Homo sapiens: one gene and its partners. The protein of the gene in region 1 interacts with the protein of each later gene in a pairwise test. Each region holds a gene or a part of one and is shown in the gene's direction. Other genes may lie near its edges.

The links.
Region 2: the proteins of RAB2A (region 1) and SGSM2 interact in a two-hybrid assay, tested with the Homo sapiens proteins (one study listed by BioGRID).
Region 3: the proteins of RAB2A (region 1) and FAM114A1 interact in binary tests that used the Homo sapiens proteins (3 or more experiments, as listed by UniProt).

Annotation. Positions count from the first base shown.
Region 1 is NC_000008.11:60,519,967-60,526,992, forward strand, and holds part of RAB2A (ras-related protein Rab-2A), read left to right. Parts: intron 1-7,026.
Region 2 is NC_000017.11:2,361,475-2,368,500, forward strand, and holds part of SGSM2 (small G protein signaling modulator 2), read left to right. Parts: intron 1-162; coding exon 163-325; intron 326-634; coding exon 635-796; intron 797-1,363; coding exon 1,364-1,431; coding exon of another isoform or gene 1,432-1,514; coding exon 1,515-1,660; intron 1,661-1,990; coding exon 1,991-2,125; intron 2,126-2,525; coding exon of another isoform or gene 2,526-2,584; coding exon 2,585-2,709; intron 2,710-3,121; coding exon 3,122-3,189; intron 3,190-3,422; coding exon 3,423-3,583; intron 3,584-3,740; coding exon 3,741-3,867; intron 3,868-4,028; coding exon of another isoform or gene 4,029-4,165; exon of another isoform or gene 4,166-4,192; intron 4,193-4,900; exon of another isoform or gene 4,901-5,339; intron 5,340-5,564; coding exon of another isoform or gene 5,565-5,586; exon of another isoform or gene 5,587-5,682; intron 5,683-5,690; coding exon of another isoform or gene 5,691-5,756; exon of another isoform or gene 5,757-5,790; intron 5,791-5,796; coding exon 5,797-5,931; intron 5,932-7,026.
Region 3 is NC_000004.12:38,926,780-38,933,805, forward strand, and holds part of FAM114A1 (protein NOXP20), read left to right. Parts: intron 1-71; coding exon of another isoform or gene 72-397; exon of another isoform or gene 398-1,555; intron 1,556-2,462; coding exon 2,463-2,554; intron 2,555-4,671; coding exon 4,672-4,833; intron 4,834-5,455; coding exon 5,456-5,595; intron 5,596-7,026. UniProt on the Homo sapiens protein: May play a role in neuronal cell development.

The DNA of each region.
Region 1 (7,026 bases):
GAAAAGATGACTTTAAAATCAGTAATGTGAGATCCACTTTGATTTTTTAAAAAGTCAGGGTCAAAAACATGCATCTTAGAATGAAGGAAATCACCTAATTTTTCTGTTTCCCTGTTTCCGTAACCTATAACCTTCTCTCAGTATGTGGGATAAAATGAGGATAAATGTGAAAGTACTTTGATTTCTCAAAGGAAAGGAACAATGCACATTTTTCCTTTTCAGAATTCCCTCTTTAATAGAAGAGGTTTTAAAAACTTTTACATGATCATGATGATACTATTGAGCTGTTTTCTTACTGTAAGACTAAATGCAGTTAAAATGTAGCTTTAAATTTTTTCCTTGTTCCTGTCTTGTTTCTGAATCATTTAGTAAAATGTGTCATTTAAATCTAGATGTAAAGTGGAAAGTGGTTTTTAATAAGCAGTTAATTATCAAGCATGGAGAGAAAAAATACGAATCTATAGTAATTTTTCTTCTGAAATTCTAGCATCTGCCAACCATTTTAACCTTATCACTAACCCTCCCTGCTGCTCAACGCTCAGCAAGGTAAACAAAGGCACAGGTTTGGTTGTGTTCTTATTTCTGCTAATATCTGAAGCACTCCTTCTTGTTCTTCCCTATCAAAAAAAGTTATGTCAAAAATTTTTGTCACCTGGCCAACTCCTTTTTATCCATTCTTTTGAGAGTTTAACAAATCCTACCACTCCCTGTTGCATTTTATGCTGGTCCCCTCCTCTCTTCCCTCATTCTGTTTCCCTTCTCTTCAGTCCCAGTCCCACTTACATTTTATTTTTTATTTTTCACTCTTATGTATATACCCACCACTTCCATTTTATTTTATTTTACTTATATTATTTATCTATCTATTGAGACATGATCTCTGTTGCCCAGGCAGGAGTGCAGTGGCACTATCACGGCTCACTCACTACAGCTTCAGTCTCCTGGGCCTAAGCAATCCTCCCACCTAAGTCTTCCAAGTAGCTGGGAACACAGGCACATGCCACCATGCCTGGCTAATTTTTAAATTTTTGTAGAGATGGGCTCTCACTGTGTTGCTCAGGCTGGTCTCAAACTCCTGGGCTTAAGCCATCCTCCCACTTCAGCCTCCCAAAGTGCCAGATTACAAGCACAAGCCACAGCTCTCAGCCCCACTTGCATTTTAAATTATCTTTTTAGTTAGGAAGGTCTTTGCCTTTGTCTTAGATGCCAGGGTACACCATTGAGTGTCAGATTTATTTAATAGTTAAGTGGATGGATCCTTGAGGGGAGGCACTAGGTGATGTTTCAGCTGAAATTAGAATGATGAGTAGGCACCGCCAGAGTGGGCATGGGGGAATGTCTGGTATGTAGTTGAAAGTTTATTTCTGGCTCAGGAGAGAGTAATCTGGGATAGAGACTTGGGAGCTAATAACATAAAATGGAGTCCCTATTACCTGAGAGTTCATTTTCTGAGCTTTTGAAATTACAAGGTTATGTAGGGAAGAAAAATTCTCATGATATGAAAATAATTATTAATAAGTTATCACCTTAAAAAATTAACTACTCAAGCTTACTTCTAATTCCCATCCTCCTGATTGGCGTAGGGGCTTGCTGATCATAATATAGTTCAAATTAGTTGCAAAGTGAAATTATGTATCATGCTAAAATTGCAAGCATTTGTTTCTTTTTTTTGAGATGGAGTTTTGCTCTTGTCACCCAGGCTGGAGTGCAGTGGCGCCATCTGGGTTCACTGCAACCTCCACCTCTTAGGTTCAAGCGATTCTCCTGCCTCAGCCTCCCCAGTAGCTGGGATTACAGGCGTCTGCCCCCACGCCCAGCTGATTTTTGTATTTTTAGTAGAGATGGAGTTTTGCCATGTTGGTCTGACTGGGTCTCGAACTCCTGACCTCAGGTGGTCCACTCACCTCGGCCTCCTTAAGTGCTGGGATTACAGGTGTGAGCCACCGCGGCAAGGCAGCATTTGTTTCTTTGATGCAAGTGATTTGGAGCATTGGTTCACATGCAAAACCATTGACAAATGGGGATCTGACAAAGTTGTCCTCCTGGAATGAAGTAGGTGGTGATTGTTCATTGAATGAATTGACAGATGAAAGCTTGGATGTAATGGTGGGAAATACTAGTGTTCATGGGGCACATGGGGAAAGTTATCAGCATAGTAGGCTAACAAGGAATAATCAAAAGAGCAAGAGAGACCTGGGCAGTACAGTGTCATGGAATCTGCAGAGAAGGCAGATCCCAGAGAGGGAGTGGTTACCAGTGTCATGTGCAGTAGAGGTCAGGGACTATTGGTTGAAATGGTAGGAAGACATTAGTGCTTTGACACAGTGTTTGATTCAGATGTCAGTGAGGGGGAGAACTAAGGTGTATTTTCATTTATGTTGTTAAAAAACTGTGGATTTTTATATATGTGTAAATAAAAAAAGTCCCAAGACTACACACTTAACCGTTACTTCTGGGGAGGAGAGTAGAATTATATGCTTATATTGATTACACTGAAAGAGTTGGTGTTGGTGAAATGGGGCTTTTTATATTGTAGGGTCCTCCTACTTTCTTTTTTAAAAAAAAATTTAAACAATATCACACATAGTATTGGTGGTTTTACAAAAAGAGTTATTGGGAAGTTACAAGTAGAACCATGCATGGGTTATTTTATTGAAGAATAAATGTGAGTGTGTGTTTGTATTTTAAGATAGGAGAGACTTGAGGTTGAAAGGTTAAATACAAGAGAAGGGGAGGTAAGGAGCAAAGTTGTAGAGGATTTGGGGAAGGATTGGGGAAGGAAGGGGATTAGATTCTCAATAGCTCTAGAGAAAAACAGAAGGAAGACCTCTTCCTGTGGGAGACTCAAATTTGAGTTTCTTTAGATTCTTGTGAATCACTGGAGTGTTTGTTTAAAAAAAAAAATATTCAGCAGCCCAACCCCTAGAGATTTTGATTGACTAGATTTGAGGTGGAGCTGAATGTTGCAAAACCTGCGGCCAGAAGTACTAGTCATTTTATTTTATTATATAAGCAGATTTGTTAGAATTACCTTCAAAAAACAACCTGGGAAGTTCAGAGGTAGAAAAATTCTATTAAAGCTTTTTTATTGAGATGTAGCATGCATATAAAAGAATATATAAAATACATATACACAGTTTAATAGTTTTAAAGAATAATGATAAACACCCATGCAAAAGGACTCCACATTCTTTTTCTTTTTTTTTTTTTCTTGAGACAGTCTCGCTGTCACCCAGGCTGGAGTGCAGTGGCGCAATCTCAGCTCACTGCAACTTCTGCCTCCTGGATTCACGCCATTCTCCTGCCTCAGCCTCCCGAATAGCTGGGACTACAGGCGCCCGCCACCACGCCCGGCTAATTTTTTGTATTTTTAGTGAAGACGGGCTTTCACTGTGTTAGCCAGGATTGTCTTGATCTCCTGACCTCGTGATCCGCCCGCCTCTGCCTCCCAAAATGCTGGGATTACAGGCATGAGCCACCACGCCCGGCCAAGGACTCCACATTCTTACATATGTCTCTTTCTCAACCAGTTTTCCACTGGCCTGAATTTTATATTAATCCTCCCCTGCTTTTCTTCATAGTTGTATCACTTATGGATTCCTAAACTGTATTATTTAGTTTTGCCCATTTTTAGATGTGCTTAGCTGTTTCATTTATCAAATGAGAGCTGAAACATATCTTTTAACATCATTTACAATTTAGATGATATACTTTTGTTAACCTTCATTTTTTTTTTTTTTTTTGAGACAAGTCTCGCTTTGTCGCCCAGGCTAGAGTGCAGTGGCGCGATCTCGGCTCACTGCAAGCTCCGTCTCCCGGGTTCACACCATTCTCCTGCCTCAGCCTCCCAAGTAGCTGGGACTACAGGCGCCCATGACCATGCCTGGCTAATTTTTTGTGTTTTTAGTAGAGACGGGGTTTCACCATGTTAGCCAGGATAGTCTCGATCTCCTGACCTCGTGATCCGCCTGCCTCGGCCTCCAAATTTTTGCTTTATATATATTATTGGTAGTCTTTCAGGATTTTTGACTAGCTCTTTTCTGTCTGTTTTCTAACCCAGTTTATTTACTACTTCCTCCCCCTAATATTTATACCGTGCCTGAGACTTTATAGTGAATCATAGAGGCTATTGTCCCTGTTGTTCTCATTCCTTTTTACCTTTCTTAAACTCCTCTGGTGACTCTCCCTACTCATCTTCTCAATTGGTGTTCTGTCCTTTCTGTCCCATGCCATTCCTGTCCAGCATGAAAGTTTCTCTTTTATCTCCCCAACTGCTTCCCTCCTTCATTTTAATTCTTCAGCTCTCCTCCTCTTGCAGTAGCCAGTCAGTTTGATGTTTTATTTGAGCAGACCCTAATTTTGCCATCTCAGCTGTTTTTCCCTTTCCTTCTGGCCCAGCTGTGCTTACTTCATTTGTTATTCTCTGCTCACTTTAGTCTATGAGGCTGTGTCCTTTGCTACAAAAGATGCAGCCATATGCAGACCTCTCTTGTCCCTCTCCTAACTTTACATTTTCTAAAAGAAACTGTCCCATTTGATTTCATTAGCCTTGATTATTTGCAAGTTTTAAAATACTCTAGTTTTAGCTGTTACTTTTCACTTGTAAGTAAGAGATCCCTGGCAAAAAGGTTCTAGATTCTCTCTCCTGTAATGCACACATAGTAGCCCCCTTTTAATTTCTGCAGTGTTTCTTAACTCAAACTATTAATATTTGGTTCTCATCCATGGAAATGCTGTTTTAGTCACTCTCCGGGGAGTCCCAGACATCAGTATTTTTAAAAAGTATTGTTTGTATTGATGGTAGTACTGTAACATTCCACTGCTGGTAAGCCATGGGCCTTTTTTGCTTATTTTTCTAAAATTGATTCTTCTTTTTCTGCTGCCAAGTTTTCTGCTTTGGGGGATTTTATTTAATCCCTAAGGTGTAGCCAGACTGAATTTGTATGGAATTCTCCATCACATTAGCTTTTGGCATTGTGGTCTGTATAGCAGATTCTCATGAGTAATCCTCCACACTTTTTATAGTTCCTACACCATATCAAAAGCTTATTATCTGTTAATTCTTCAACAGATACATGAGATTACTGTTTTACAGATGGAGAAACTGAGTTGTGTCATTTGGGGCAAATTATCTTAGTAGATGGTTGATCTGGTTTGGCTCTGTGTCCCACTCGAATCTCATCTCAAATTTTAATTTCTGTAGTCCCCACGTGTTGAGGGAGGGATCCCATGGAAGGTGATTGGATCATGGGGTCAGTTTCCCCCATGCTGATCTGGTGATAGTGAGTGCTCATGAGATCTGATGGTTTTATAAGTGTTTGACAGTTCCTCATTCATACTCTGTTTTTCTCCTGCCGCCACGTAATATGTGCCTGCTTCCCCTTCTGCCATGATTATAAGTTTTCTGAGGCCTCCCCAGCCATGCAGAACTGTGAGTCAATTAAGCCTCTTTATAAATTACCCAGTCTCGGGTAGTATCTTTATAGCAGTGTGAAAACGAACGAATACAGTGGTAGAACAAAGATCTAGGGGTGTCTGACTCCACGGGCCATTCTCTTGATTACAGGGTGGTCTGGCTCCATTCCCCTTTGCTCTTTCTTTCCCCATATCTTCTGAGTTTTTACTTTTCATAGCCATAATGTAGCTTTAGGTTTCTCCCAGTTCTCACTTTAAAATATTCTCATTTTCAGGTATAGCTGAGAGTCACTGTGTTTTTAGCCAAATCTAAGGGAGAAAATGAATATTGATAGCAGCATGCTGTAGCCAGCTCCTTAAAGGAAGGATGGTGCCTGGTACAGAGTTAGAGTTAGTGCTTCAGTAAATAATGAATGTGTGCTAGGTAGGTTCTGCTGGGTAGGCTGCATGCATTGACCAATTTATTCCTCCTTGTTTCAAAACAGGATTTAAGGGCACTTATATATATATATTTTTTAGTTTTTTTAATGTAAATGAGAGAATAAAGATATATATATATGTCTATATATGTATATATGTATATATATGTCTATATGTCTATATGTATATATGTCTATATGTATATATGTGTGTGTGTACATATATATATATATATATATATATATATATATATATAAGTTTTCTGTTGCTAGCATAACAAACTACCAGAAACTTAGCAACTGAAACAACATGAATTTATCTTACGGTTCTATAGTTCAGAAGTCTAACGTGTCACTGGGATGAAATCCAGGTTTCAACAGGACTGGGTTCCCTTCTAGCTCATTCAGCTACCTGGCTCATTCAGGTTGTTGGCAGAATATACTTCCATGAAACTGTAGGGCTGAGACCCCGTTTCCTTCCTGGCTATCATCTGAGAGCTTTTCCCGACTTCTAGAGTCCACCCACCTACCCACATCCCTTGGCCCATGGCCCCCTTCCTCCATCTTCACAACCAACAACAGTGGGTCACGTCCTTCTTGTGTCTCATCTTTCTTGTTGGGCCATCCCAAGTCTCTCTGTTTTAGGAAAGGTTTTCCACTTTTAAGGACTCATGTGATTAGATTGGGCTTACCTGGATAATACATGCTAATCTCCCCATCTCAAGGTCTAATCTTAATCAAATCTACAAAATCCCCTTTGCCATGCTAGGGTAAAATATTCACAGGTTCTGGGGATTAGGATGTTAATATCTTTTGGAGGGCATTTTTCCGCTTACCATAAAGGCCTGCATTAGTCCATTCTCACACTGCTATAAAGAACTACCTGAGGCCAGGCATGATGGTTCACGCCTGTAATCCTAGCACTTTGGAGGCTGAGGCGGGTGGATTGCTTGCGCTGAGGAGTTCGAGACCAGCCTGGGCAACACGGTGAAACCCCATCTCTACTAAAATACAAAAAATTAGCCAGGCGTGGCGGCATGCGCCTGTAATCCCAGCTACTTGGGAGGCTGAGATGAGAGCATCATTTGAACCCGGGAGGGAGAGGTTGCAGTGAGCTGAGATGGCACCATTGCACTCCAGCCTGGGCGACAGTGCGAGACTCCATCTCAAAAAAAAAAAAAAAAAAAGAAGT
Region 2 (7,026 bases), on another chromosome or scaffold:
AGGGACGGGGAGGGGAATTTTGGAAGGAAGCCAGGGTATCTCCCTGGCCTGCCCTTGGCTTGCCCTTACCCCTTGCCTCACCACAGGTATGGGGAAGAGGAGCTTTTCTTCCTGCTCCCCCGTCTTTCCCAGGCTCAGATGCCGTTTCCCTTTGTGGCCTAGGTGCAGTGGAGGCTTGCCTCTTGCATCAGCTGAGACGCCGTGCCGCTGGCTTCCTGCGCAGTGACAAGATGGCAGCCCTGTTCACCAAGGTGGGGAAGACGTGCCCAGTGGCGGGGGAGATTTGCCACAAGGTACAGGAGCTGCAGCAACAAGCAGAGGGCAGGTGAGCCCTGGGCCAGCCCCTTCTTCCCTCCTTTCAGCTCTTCCCACTTGGCAATTGCTACTTCCTAGGACACCCATCGGAAAGTTGGCATCCTGGGCCTGTTCCTTGCAGGGCCTCTGGGTGAGGGATCAGCTTGAGGGAGGGGATTGGTTCCTTGTGGGCACAAGGCTCTGTACCCCTCCTTCACCTCCCAACCCCAGTCAGTTCTCTGTGCTCCCATCTTGGGGTACCAAGCCCCACTCCCAATGCCAGCATTCTGGGGTTTACCCCTAGACCACTGCACTCCTGGAGCCCTCCCCGCCTTTGCAGGAAACCCTCAGGGGTCAGCCAGGAGGCCCTGCGGAGACAGGGCTCAGCCAGCGGGAAGGCCCCGGCCCTCAGCCCTCAGGCCTTGAAACACGTATGGGTACGCACGGCGCTCATCGAGAAAGTTCTGGACAAGGTCGTGCAATACCTGGCGGAAAACTGCAGGTGACCGCCCCGTTCCCCAAAAACTGCAGGTGACCACCCCGTTCCCCCCAAAACTGCAGGTGACCGCCCCGTTCCCCAAAAACTGCAGGTGACCGCCCCGTTCCCCAAAAACTGCAGGTGACCGCCCCGTTCCCCCCAAAACTGCAGGTGACCGCCCCGTTCCCAAAAACTGCAGGTGACCGCCCCGTTCCCCAAAAACTGCAGGTGACCGCCCCGTTCCCCAAAAACTGCAGGTGACCGCCCCGTTCCCCAAAAACTGCAGGTGACCGCCTCGTTCCCCAAGCAGCCCCTCCCTTGACCCGTCTCCCGACGTCCCTCAGCCCCAGCCCTCAGGATGCTTGCCTGTCCGTGACAGCCTGTAGGCAACCCTCCATCTCCCCGTCCCCTTCGGTGCCCTCAAGGCATTGGCCATACCAGGCACCTCACGAAGCCCAGTCCCTAAGGACTCACTGTTTCTTGATGACTGATCTGAATCTGGTCTTTGTGGGGATGTCCCTACCTGGTGAGCTTGACTGCCCTGGAATGAGCCCCGGAGCCTCGGCAGTCACACTGTCTGTCTCCTGGCAGCAAGTACTACGAGAAGGAGGCACTGCTGGCAGACCCTGTGTTCGGCCCGATCCTGGCCTCTCTTCTAGGTGAGCCTGAGAGCACAGGCACAGTGGGTACGGGGCAGGTGCTGAGGGAGCATCGTCTGGGCTGGCTGTCTCTGTCTCCACAGTGGGACCCTGTGCCTTGGAATACACTAAGCTCAAGACAGCCGATCACTACTGGACTGACCCCTCTGCTGATGAGCTGGTCCAGCGGCACCGCATCCGGGGTCCACCTACTCGCCAGGACTCCCCTGCAAAGCGCCCAGCCCTGGGGGTAGGTGCCCCCTCCCCACCCTTTGGGCTCATCTGGGCTATGCCCATGGGCCTGTAGGGACGGGAAACCGGCCTCTCTACGGGACAGGCCTTGGAGATGCCCCAAGGTAGCGGCTGCCTCAGAAGAGCCTTCTCCGCACAATAAAACTTAACACAAATGCCGGGAGCCCATGCTGGTCCGTGGCTGGAGAGCAGAGGGTGGCTGGGAGTAAACCGGGGCAGGAAGGACCCCTGGGGTCAGCTGGAGAGGGTCAGCATGGAAGCGTGAGGGTTCCCAAGCCTTGAGGCCAGTTTCCCAAGGCTGGAGGCTGAGCCCCGGCCTTCCACACAGATCCGGAAACGGCACTCAAGCGGCAGCGCGTCGGAGGACAGGCTGGCTGCCTGTGCCCGCGAGTGTGTGGAGTCCCTGCACCAGAACTCACGGACGCGGCTGCTCTATGGCAAGAACCACGTGCTGGTGCAGCCGGTAGGAAAGCTTCATCCTGCCATCCCTCCCCGAAGGTCCCCGAACGAGACGACTGGAAGCCTCTAGCCATGGCTATTCCTTTCCTGAGGAGCTTGACCAGAGACGGGGGGGAGAATGGCCCCAGCCTCCCAACTCCCTGTTTCACACGACTCACGCCCAGCCTTTAGTTGGCAGGGGACAGGAATGGCAGCCAGCAGGCGAGGGGAGTCCGCAGTGTGGGTATGGCTGGCCTGGAATGGACCTGGCATCCAGGAGGCTGGCAGGAGAGAGTCAGTGGCACCAGGCTGACCAGGGAAACTGAGTCCTGTTTTCCTGTGCTTCTGCCCCGTCCCTAGTCCAGGACCCCGTGACTAGCCTAGCTTGGCCTCCCCTCCTCCCAGCGGGAGCTCATTTCTCATAGGCCATCCCTGAGAGCCTCTCAGCCCTTCATCGTCGGTCTTCCGGTGTCTCCCGCTGTAGAAGGAGGATATGGAGGCGGTCCCTGGCTACCTCTCCCTGCACCAGTCTGCAGAGAGCCTGACTCTGAAGTGGACCCCCAACCAGCTCATGAATGGGACTCTGGGGGACTCCGAGCTGGAAAAGAGGTGGGGGCTTTGGGACTCAATCCCAGGAGCCAGGGCAGGGAGTGGGTTTGACCTCAGGCAGAGGGATGGAGAAACCCCGCTTGCTCCAGGAGGCCAACCTCACTCTTTATTTGGACGCCAAGAATAGCAGGGAGCGGCTGCCTGGAGTGATTCCCAAGCTCTCTAGGACGGAGCCAAGCCTGGCCGTGAAGAGGTTTGTCTGAGCCAAGCTCTCAGCGGCTGAGACGGACAGCTGTCCATGTGCCGAGCGGGCAGCACAGATCTCAGGGGTCATGGCTGGCTGTGTGCACCTCTTGGCTATGGTCATCCTATCTTCAGGGGAGTTTCGTGGGGTGGTAGGACCAGGAGACAAGGAAGGAAGGAAGGATGGCAGGTCTTTGGACACAGTGACAGCAGTCTGGTTCCTTTCTAGCGTTTACTGGGACTATGCCCTCGTGGTGCCCTTCAGCCAGGTCGTGTGCATCCACTGCCACCAGCAAAGTAAGCCTGCCTTGTCCTCGGCTCGGGTGGGAAGGGAGAGGCTGCCTTCTGCCAGCTGTGCACTGTGCGTGGGGCCTGTAAGACTCCTCGTCCTCCTCCCATCCTTGTTAATGGGGCTCCCAGGCCATGCTGTAGCCCAGCCATCTGCCTCCTACCCAGCCTGGGGGCACTGGCCAGCAGGGTGTGATAGCCGACGAGAGGGCCTCAGCCGCACTCTCCACGTTCACCCCCAGAGAGCGGTGGCACGCTTGTGCTGGTGAGCCAGGATGGCATCCAGAGGCCGCCGCTGCATTTCCCACAGGGAGGACACCTGCTGTCCTTTCTGTCCTGTCTGGAGAATGGGCTGCTGCCTCGGGGACAGCTAGAGCCCCCGCTGTGGACCCAGCAAGGGAAGGTAACTCGGGTGGGAGGCTTTAGGGGAAGGGCTGTGTGTGGGGTTCTCTGCCCGCCTCCCTTCCTTCCCCACGTGGAGTTCTTAGGAGCGGCCTTGTGTGGAACCCTGGATGAGACTCTGCCCTATACAGCCCGACCACCTACCCCTCCTTCCACAGGGGAAAGTGTTCCCCAAGCTACGGAAACGAAGCAGCATTCGCTCCGTGGATATGGAGGAGATGGGCACGGGGCGGGCCACCGACTATGTGTTCCGGATCATCTACCCCGGCCACAGGCACGAGCACAGTGAGTGTCCCGAGCTTCATCCCGGGGGAGGAGAGGAAGACGCTCTGGGAGGCGGGGAGCGCAGCGTCACCCAGGAGGGCAGCAGGCAGGGCCCACTGACCAGGCCAGGTTAACACCAGAGGCTCATCGCCTAGCCTCTCAGCTGGACCTTTTACCCACAGATATTGCCTTTGAAAAGGTGCGTCTCTTCTACCCAGCTCCCTTCCCCACTTCTCCACGCCAGGACTCTTGGCTCAGCAGACCTAGGCGTCACTACACAAGACTCTTAGTTATCCTTTCAGACCCTGTCCAGGGGTAAAACACGTGGAGAAACGAGAAGTAGAAGGTGGGGAACCCTCCATTGCTCTTCACCTCCTGCTCCCCAACCCCTACAAGACAGCCTGGGTATGGGACCAGCGCTACTTTTTTTTTTTTTTTTTTTTTGAGACGACGTCTCGCTCTTTTACCCAGGCTGGAGTTTAATGGCGTGATCTCAGCTCACTGCAACCTCTGCCCCTGGGTTCAAGCGATCCTCCTACCTCAGCCTCCTGAGTAGCTGGGATTACAGGCGCACACCTCCATGCCCGGCTAATTTTTGTATTTTTAGTAGAGATGGGGTTTCACCATATTGGCCAGGCTGGTCTCAAACTCCTGACCTTGTGATCTGCCTGCCTCAGCCTCCCAAAGTGCTAGGGTTACAGGCGTGACCACTGCGCCCGGCCCAGCGCTTCTTTTTGGATGGTGAATATTGTCTGCTGACTCCCCTAGAGCCAGAGCCCTCCTCAAACCAACTACTGATGAGCGTTAGCTGAAGTAGCAGGTTGCATCAGAGGCAGACTCGGGGCTGCCTGGGGGCTTTGGGCACTGGCGGGTAGAAAGGCGGCTTGGCCCTTGTGGGTCCTGCCCCACCCTGGACACACACCCCTGGGCCCAAGGGGGTCTCTCTGTCTATGTGCATCTACCAACACCAAAGTTCCCTTTCTGGTCAGAGTGCTGCTGCTGCCCATAGGCTTCTCTGGGCAGACTTGCTTTTCTTACAGATAAGGTCGGGGAATTTGCCAGCCCAGAGCGTTTATTGCTAACAAGACCACCCGCTCCCTAAATTTCCAACTTGTGCCAAAAAGTTGTCAACAAGTTGTCTCTGTATTAGGGACCGGACTGCCCAGACGGCACACTCAGCCACAGCACAGATAGCTCCACCAGGCTCAGAGGGCACACGGCACAGGGATGTCCCCCCTTCCCAGATGTACCTGACAAAGAGACGCATCTTTGGCCAGAATGTATTTACACACTTGGCACTTAGTCTCAGGCTGTTGCTTGGTTTAGCTTCTCCAGTCTCTGCCTCCCCTCTTCGATCTTTGCCATTTCCCAGTCCTGGTCACTTCACTTCCAGGACCACCTCGCCAAGGGCAAGCCAGGGCACCCAGAGGCTGAAACTCCACCAAGCGACTCCAGCTCCTTGAGGACAGCTCTGGGAAAACCCTTTCCTTTTCCTGGGAGGGAAGAAGGTGGAATTTATAGTCTGAAAAAGGGGATTTGGAGTAATCTTCAGATTTGGTCCAGCCTGAGAGGAGCTAGAGAACGATCAGGACCCATCTGCCAGCTGTCATGCGCAGCCTCTGTGAGGGCCGATGACCTCCTGGGCTGCCAGCCCATCCCAGACAGTCCCGGTCTTTCACATCCTCCCACCTCTGTTCTCTCTCTTCTGTTCTTCCTAGAGAGGCTGCCTCCGAAGAGTGAGGTTCTGCAGCTGCCCCAGCCCCTCGCCTCCTTCCACACTCTCCCAGGAAAATCATCCAAAGAGCTTTCTGGTCCCCTCCCTTCCCCTCTTCTGTGCCCTGCAGATTCACGATGACCCCGGCCTCCATTCCACTCCCCTTAAGGAGGGAGTCCGTCCTGCCCAGGGATGAGGGCCTCATGCCTCTGCCTCTCGCTGTTCTCTTTGAGCAGTCACTATTAACTACCACCACCTAGCGGCCAGCCGCGCGGCCTCGGTGGACGATGATGAGGAAGAGGAGGATAAACTGCACGCGATGCTCTCAATGATCTGCTCGCGGAACCTCACAGCTCCCAATCCGATGAAAGGTTCTTATCCCTCCCTCTCCCTGACCCACCTCATCCCCACCCTCCCTCCCGGGCCCGCCTGCCACCCACCACAGGGGTTCGAACGGCAGTGTTGGCATTAGGGGACTTGCACCCAGGGCAGTTCCCTTCCATCGGGGGCAGATCAGGGAGGGCAGAAGGAGGCCAGACAGGTGCTGGCAAGAAAAGGGGCTGGCCCAGGGCAGGTGGCTCCAGGCTGTGAGGAGGAAGAGGATTTGCTAATAGGAAGGTCTGATTATCTGATTGCCTCCTGGGCACCCTGAATGGATCTCTGAGCCCATTCCTACTCCGGGGGTCAGGCTGGCAAATGCCAGACAGAGGTCTCTTCCTTTCTCTCTGCTGATTGGGAAGACCAGCCTCTGGGCCTGGTGCTTCTGACTCCTGACTTAACAGAAACAGGATGGAGGTACCGGGTCCTTCCTGGGGCAGGGGCAGCAGCTGTGGGTCAGGCGAGGGGTTGAGGGCTGCCATGCGAAGGGCCCCAGGGCTCAGTCTTCCCAGGAGGCCTGAGGGCCCCAGCCGGCAGGGCCTGGTACTTTGGCATGAAATCTAGAAATAGCTGCAGCATGGTGTCCAGGAAGGGGCCAGGCTCAGGGCCTGGCAACATGAACTCCCGCCCCAGATATGCCCCTGGTTCACTGTGTGGTTTTGAGCAAGTTTCTCACTATCCCGGAGCTCCGTCTCTTCACCTGCGCCAGGGATATAAGACAGATGTGTTCCTGCCCTCATGAGTCTCAGGGTCCACGAATGGAGAGGTCACCTTTGTTGGAGGTGATAGCGTAGTGCCCTCAGCCTCTCAGGGTTCCTCTGCCTACCACCCATCTTTCCTAGCACAGAGCTGGCTTGGTAGAGAGGGAGCCCCCCTCTTTTCAGCAAGCAATCAGCCAGGCGACCTGTGAGGGCTGGGATGGGTGCTCCAGAAAGGGGTGGGTAGGAAGAGGCTGAGGCCAGTTCTCCCAGAGACGAGGGGAGCTTCCCCATTCCCACCCATTCCCATGCTACAAAATCAATTGCTTCTCCCTTTCCCCGCCCCTGCAGAGGATGTCCTCAGAATATGTCACACTCCCCTTAGGCTTC
Region 3 (7,026 bases), on another chromosome or scaffold:
CTCTCTATCTCTGAGACTGTCTAGCCCTCCAGCTCTCCCTTTGTGTGATTAATGCATTCTCTTTCTTGAAGGCTCTGTTCAGGCATCACCTCCTCCAGGAACCCTGCTTCACACCCCTCTGAGAACTGGATTATATGCTGCAAAAGCCCCCTTAGAGCACTTACCTCTTTGGGTTAAAACGATTTGCTTGTTGTGGCTTCGTCATGAGCAAAGACAGCCGTCTCTGCCTCCTCCCTGCGCACACCTGCCTCACTCTGCTGCAGCCACGCTGACGTCCTTGCTGCTCCCATGGATGAACCAGGCATACTCCCTCCTGGACTCTACTCTTGCTACACTGCAGCTGGAAGGCTCTTCCCCCCTGACATCTTGTAGCTGGCTCATTGCTCTCCTCCTCTAGCACATTACTCAATTGTCACCTTCTTAGTTAGCTTCCCTCCTGTCTTAGTCCCTTCAGGCTGCTATATCAAAATACCATAGACTATGTGGCTTATAAACAACAGAAATCTATTTCTCACAGCTTTGGAGACCGTAAAGTCGAAGCTCAAAGTGCTGGCAGATTCTGTGTCTAATGAGGTCTCCTGATCTCTGGTTCACAGCTGGTGTCTTCTAGCTGTGTCCTTACATGGTGGAAGGGACCAGCTAGCTCCCTGGGGCCTCTTTTTTTAGGGCACTAATCCGGTTCATGGGGGGCTCCCCACTTCATGATCTAATCACACCCCCAAAGCCTCACCTCCTATTGTCATCACATTGGTATTAGGTTTCAAAATATTAATTTGGAGAGGACAGGGGCATTCAGACCACAGCACCTCCTGTTTAAAACTCCTAAACCCCAGCTAGCCCTGTTTATACTTCTCCATAAAACGTATCCCTTGACGTTGATGTTATTTACTTATCTGTTTTGTTTTATTTTGTTTTGTTTTTTGAGACAGAGTCTTGCTCTGTCACCCAGGCTAGAGTGCAGTGGCATGATCTCCGCTCACTGCAACCTCTGCCTCCCAGGTTCAAGTGATTCTCCTGCCTCAGCCTCCCAAGTAGCTGGGATTACAGGCGCCCGCCTCCGCGCCCGGTTAATTTTTGTATTTTTAGTAGAGACGGGGTTTCACCATCTTGGCCAGGCTGGTCTCAAACTCCTGACCTCATGATCCACCCATCTCGGCCTCCCAAAGTGCTGGGATTACAGGCGTGAGCCACCGTGCCTGGACTACTTATCTGTTTTGATTATTGATCTGTTTCCCTCATGAGAATAGATGAGTTATAGGTAATAATAAGCGGATCTAAGCTAAATGTTTTGAATAAATACCTACAAGCTATGCCAGGCTATCTTCGTGGGCTGCAGATCAACCATTTTGTCCATAAAACAGAAAATAGCATCTCCAGACAAGGGCTGGATGCAGTGTTTCTCACATGGCTTAGTCCCCTCTTCAAGGCTCTGCCTTCCCCCACTGGCATAAGCCACAGTATTTTCTTCTTAGAGAGTTCTGAGATCATGTAGTCAGGTGAGATAAATGATGCCTTTATTCTCCCCCAAACTGGTAATAAATCCATGTGGAATCCATTCTTTGGCACCTTTCAGAACTGTTAAAAATGGCATGGCCTTGCAGATACTTTAAAAGAGAAAAATAAGATTGTAATCTTTAACAATCTCTTTATTGCCCACAATGATCCTAATTTTTTTATTTTATGATATTTGATATTTTAATACGTATACTGTCTGTTATATATATTAATATATCATATTATATATTAGGCAATGTATTAATAAATCATTCTGTAAATATTCATTTTAGCACCTATGATATGTGAGGTATTGTGTTAGATACTCTAGGATTCAAGAGTGAGCAGAAGAAATACTGTCTCTGTCCCTCAGTAGCTTCCAGGGTGAAAGGAAGACAGATCATTAAGAAATATTGTAGGACCAGCCAGGTATCCTAGGGAACCTTGGGAAATTTCTCCAGAGAGATGGTTGAGACTAATTCGGTTTATTCAGCACTGTGGCTCTGTGGACATAAAAGGGCACCTGGGTACCATTAGGGTTGCAATGCTAAGCATAACAATATCGAAGTCATAAATATGATGTTGTCCCAGGTCTCTTAGGCCTGAGAAAGGTCATGCCTTTGTTCATCCCAGTCCTTCTTTCAGCAAATAGCTGCTGACCACCTACAGCTGTGAACAAGACAAGCGAGGTCCCTCCCTGACCTCTTGTTGCCTTTGGGTTGTCCTGGGGGTGTCCCTGCTGGAGCTGCCAAACAGCAAGACTTCAGCGGCCCTGCACCCGGATGCATCTGCTGCCTCACTGCCATGCTCACGAATGGAAGACATTCATCTTTGCCCAGCGGCTGGCGGGCAGGCTGCTACAACCTCCACTTAGTCTACCCCAGCTGCAGGCTGTAATGTTGGGGGAGCTGCCACATCCTGAAGGATGAAAAATAAATCACGCTTCTTCTGTCGTGTTCTATTTCTAGGCTTAGAAGAAAAGGGAGAAGAATTTGCTCGCATGCTTACAGAGCTTCTCTTTGAATTACATGTGGCGGCCACACCTGACAAACTCAATAAGGTCAGCACTGTCTGATTTATAGTTTCTGGTTAAAAAAAAACAGTGCAGGGGAGAGTCTCTGTTGTAAAGTTCCAGAGATGCACCTGAAATGGAAAACCCCCAAATCTTATGTGGCATAGTGCCGGGAGAGGAGTTTGAGGTCAGTAATTAAGATTTGAGGAGGGGCTGGGCACGTGGCTCACGCCTATAATCCCAGCACTTTGGGAGGCCAAGGCGGGTGGATCACCTGAGGTCAGGAGTTTGAGACCAGCCTGGCCAACATGGTGAAATTCCATCTCTACTAAAATACAAAAATTAGCCAAGTGCGGTGGCGCATGCCTGTAATCCCAGCTACTCGGGAGACTGAGGCAAGAGAATCGCTTGAACCCAGGAGGCCAAGGTTGCAGGGAGCTGAGATTGTGCCACAGCACTCCAGCCTAGGTGACAGAGTGAGACTCTCTCTCAAATTTTAAAAAAAGGAAAAAACGAAAAGATTTGAGGAGGCAACATAATGGAATGTGGTGGTGGAGAACATGCTAGACTGTGTCATGAGATCTGCATTTTAGTTGTAATTTTACTAGTAATTACCTTGTAACCTTGAATAAGTCACTTACCTTTTCATGGCAAAATAGAATGTTATGTCGGAGCAGTAGTTATCATCAGGTTAGGGCAGGGAAAAAGGGTGCAGAATCACCAAGAGGCTTTTTTCAAATTTCACCCCGCCCCCCTTCTAAAGAAACATGCCAGAATTAGGTAGAGAGAGGCACGTCAGCCAGGTAAACCCCACAGTTCCTCCCACCTGGAGCACAGGGGCTGCATCATGTCTAAGACCATTCCAGCTTTAACAATCTGGGTTCCTCTAATAATACCACAGTGTGTTTTGCAAGTTAGTACAAGGTCTTGCTGTGAAGTTTCTTTAGAGGCCATGATCATTAATTACTTAAAACTGCATGATGTTTTTCCATTCTCTCTCTCTCTCTTTCTTTCTTCTTTTTAGCAAGCAGTGGTTTACATAGGTACTCACTTATCCAGGTGGGTGAGGAAAAGGGCAGAATGAGGAGGTGAGATGAGTAATTTCTTTATCTCTGATGGGGGTCACTGATTCTGGCAGGTCAGTGACTTGAACACAGTGGGAAGTTGCCTCATTCATCTCCGTGCAGCATCTGCCACTGCTCAGAGGGGGCATGTGGTGGCTCTGAGATTCCACTGGCTTATTTGCTTAGGGTTAAATCTTTGTCTGTAATAGAGGACACACTGAGGACAGTTTTGCTGGGTTTTCTCTCCCCAGATCTTCTTGCTGTTAACTTACCATTCAACACTCTGATATTTTTAACTTTGGCGTGTAAGATTTAACGTGGGAAGTAAGTTTAGTGTAAGCCCCAAAACAACTTTTACTTAAGCAAACAGCTTAAACTATAATGATAAAATTGGAGTGAGTCTGCCCCTTCGTTCTAAATTCAGGGAATAACAGGCAGGGGAGGAGGTTTCTGATTGTTTAATTTAGCCATGATTTTGCAGGGCACAGAGTGCGTAAACTGCACTCATGTGAAATTAAACTAGACACAGAGCAGCACCAGACCTTTCCAGCAGCGCTTCTCTTCTCCCCCTTGAGGGTGGAAGACCTGTCATGAATCAAGAAACGCAGAGCCCTTCTTCACCTTCCCAGCATGATACATTGTTAGGTTCATGAAACATGAAGAGCTTCCTGAAATATATCAGATGAGGACATTTGCTGTAGCCGCGGCCCCATGGCTCAATTTCTAACACATATTTTTAAAAATACTATTATTCTTTTATAGATGGTCATGAAAAGTGAAAAATATACCATAGATTTTTCAATGTGACTGTCATTTTTATTCTTATCTGAATATCATTTTTAAATGCTTTTTGAAGAGTCCTCAGGCTTGCATTGTTCTTTCCATACCTTCTGTTCTGTCCCTCTTTTCTACTTTATATTTACCAGAAAGCAACAACAAGGTTATCTTTTTCGGGGGTTGAAAAATTGCCCCGTCATCCTCCAAACATACAGAGATCCATTCTTGAAGGCTTAGAGACACTTGATTCTAGTCTTGGGGTTGGAATGACTTAGTTTCCATATTTGCGCCATAAAAGGATTGTTTGGTTGGGGACCTCTGCAGGCCATGAAGAGGGCTCATGACTGGGTGGAAGAGGATCAAACCGTGGTGTCAGTAGATGTGGCAAAAGTGTCCGAAGAAGAAACAAAGAAGGAAGAAAAGGAAGAGAAATCTCAAGACCCTCAAGAAGACAAAAAGGAGGAAAAGAAAACTAAGACCATAGAGGTAAATTCATTCTAGATTGTCTGCCTACAAGGTAATAAGAGTGTGTTCATTTTATTAGCAGCTTAATTTTAATTGAGGAGAGGCCATTTCTTTTTCATTTGTTCCGTGTTATAGAAATATAAGTTTGAGACCAGCCTGGCCAACATGGTGAAACCCTGTCTCTAGTAAAAATACAAAATAATAATAATAATAATTAGCAGGGCGTGGTGGCGTGTGCCTGTACTCTCAGCTACTTGGGAGGCTGAGGTATGAGAATTGCTTAAACCTGGGCGGTGGAGGTTGCAGTGATTAGATCACTGTAAGGAAAAATATCCATTGAGCTCTGTTCATTCAGCCGGCCTTCCACACACCTTCTTTAGCACCTGCCTGTTTTGTACCCAGCATTGCTGTAAGCACTGGGGATGCAGCTGTGAACAGACCTGCCACATCCGTGGGGGCTTTACAGCCCTTCCTGGCAACATTACACTTAAAGTCTTAGATATGCTTGTAATCATCAGGTTAACTATTTCGGGTTATATTTGGGGTATTTTTGAAAGAATTATATCACTTCTAATGTCACAGCATTTTTTTAAAAAAGCATCTGCTCAGTAAAAAATTTCTTGCTTGTGTCTATTCATTTCAGGAAGTATACATGTCGTCCATTGAAAGTCTGGCGGAGGTAACAGCGCGCTGTATTGAGCAGCTTCATAAAGTAGCAGAATTAATTCTTCATGGACAAGAAGAGGAAAAACCAGCTCAGGACCAAGCAAAAGTTCTAATAAAGTAAGTAAATGTTACTTTAAATTCTTATTTTCCCAGTTTTATATATAGGTACCATTCAGATACACACATACACACCCACACCCTCTAAGCCACTAGAAGATTCAGGTTTCTTTTTGTTTGTTTTTGTTTTTTGTTTTGTTGAGACGGGATCTCACTCTGTCACCCAGACTGGAGTGCAATGGCATGATCATGACTCACTGCAGCCCCAAACTCCTGGGCTCACGTGACCCTCCTGCCTCAGTCTCCCCTGGAGTTGGGACCACAGGTGCGTGCCACCACATCCAGCTAATTTTTTAATTAATTGCAGAGACCAGGCCTGGCCACGTTGCCCAGGCTGGTCTCAAACTCCTGAGCTCAAGCAGTCCTCCTGCCTCAGCCTCCTAAAGTGCTACGATTACAGGCATGAGCCACCATACCTGGCCAAAGATTCAAATTTCAAGTCAACCAATTCCATTGTTCTACGGTCATCTTAAGAAATAAGGATTTTTTTTTTTTTTTGAGACAGAGTCTCGCTCTGTCACCAGGTTGGAGTACAGTGTCACGATCTCAACTCACTGCAACCTCCGCCTCCCAGGTTCAAGCGATTCTCCTGCCTCAGCCTCCCGAGTAGCTGGGATTACAGGTGCGCACCACCACATCCAGCTAATTTTTGTATTTTTAGTAGAGACGGGTTTTCACCATGTTGGCCAGGATGGTCTCCATCTCTTGACCTTGTGATCTGCCTGCCTCGGCCTCCCAAAGTGCTGGGATTACAGTCGTGAGCCACCACGCCTAGCCAGAAATAAGGATTTCTTTAGCAAGTGCATTATGTTAGCAAGAAGAAGACTTAACTAGCCATTCTAGGAATTATTTATGAAGAGATTTAAGGGAAAACACACTAAATCATTGCATGAGGCGTGAAAGTACTTATTTAATAGATCAAAGTCTTAGAAGTAAAACCTTTTGAGGGTAATTACATTTTCAACATATACATGAATAGAGAAAGGACACTTTAATGTAACTTCTAGCTAGATTCACAAAATAGGCAAATACACTCCACTGCTCCTGGGGACTTATACCAGGTCTCCACGTTCCAAACTCCAGTGATGACGGTCACTAATATTAACCAGTTCACTGTGGGTTGTATGTGTGCATGTATGTGTTGTCCTATATCATGTTCTTCAATAAATAATAGCTATTATCATTAGTTTATTAAGTAAAATTAAAATATATGTGTAACATATATGAATATGCAATCTAGTGAATATACATGAAAATAGTTGATATGGAGCATTCATGAAAATAGTTGGTATGGAGCTGAAAAATAAGCCTTTAACTTTTATGCACATGACTGTATACTGTGATGTGGAAAATTAACATAGGCCTAAGTACCCTCGTATTATTAGACAGACACAGGAGCCAAAATAGAGCCCCTGAAAATATCCAGGGATG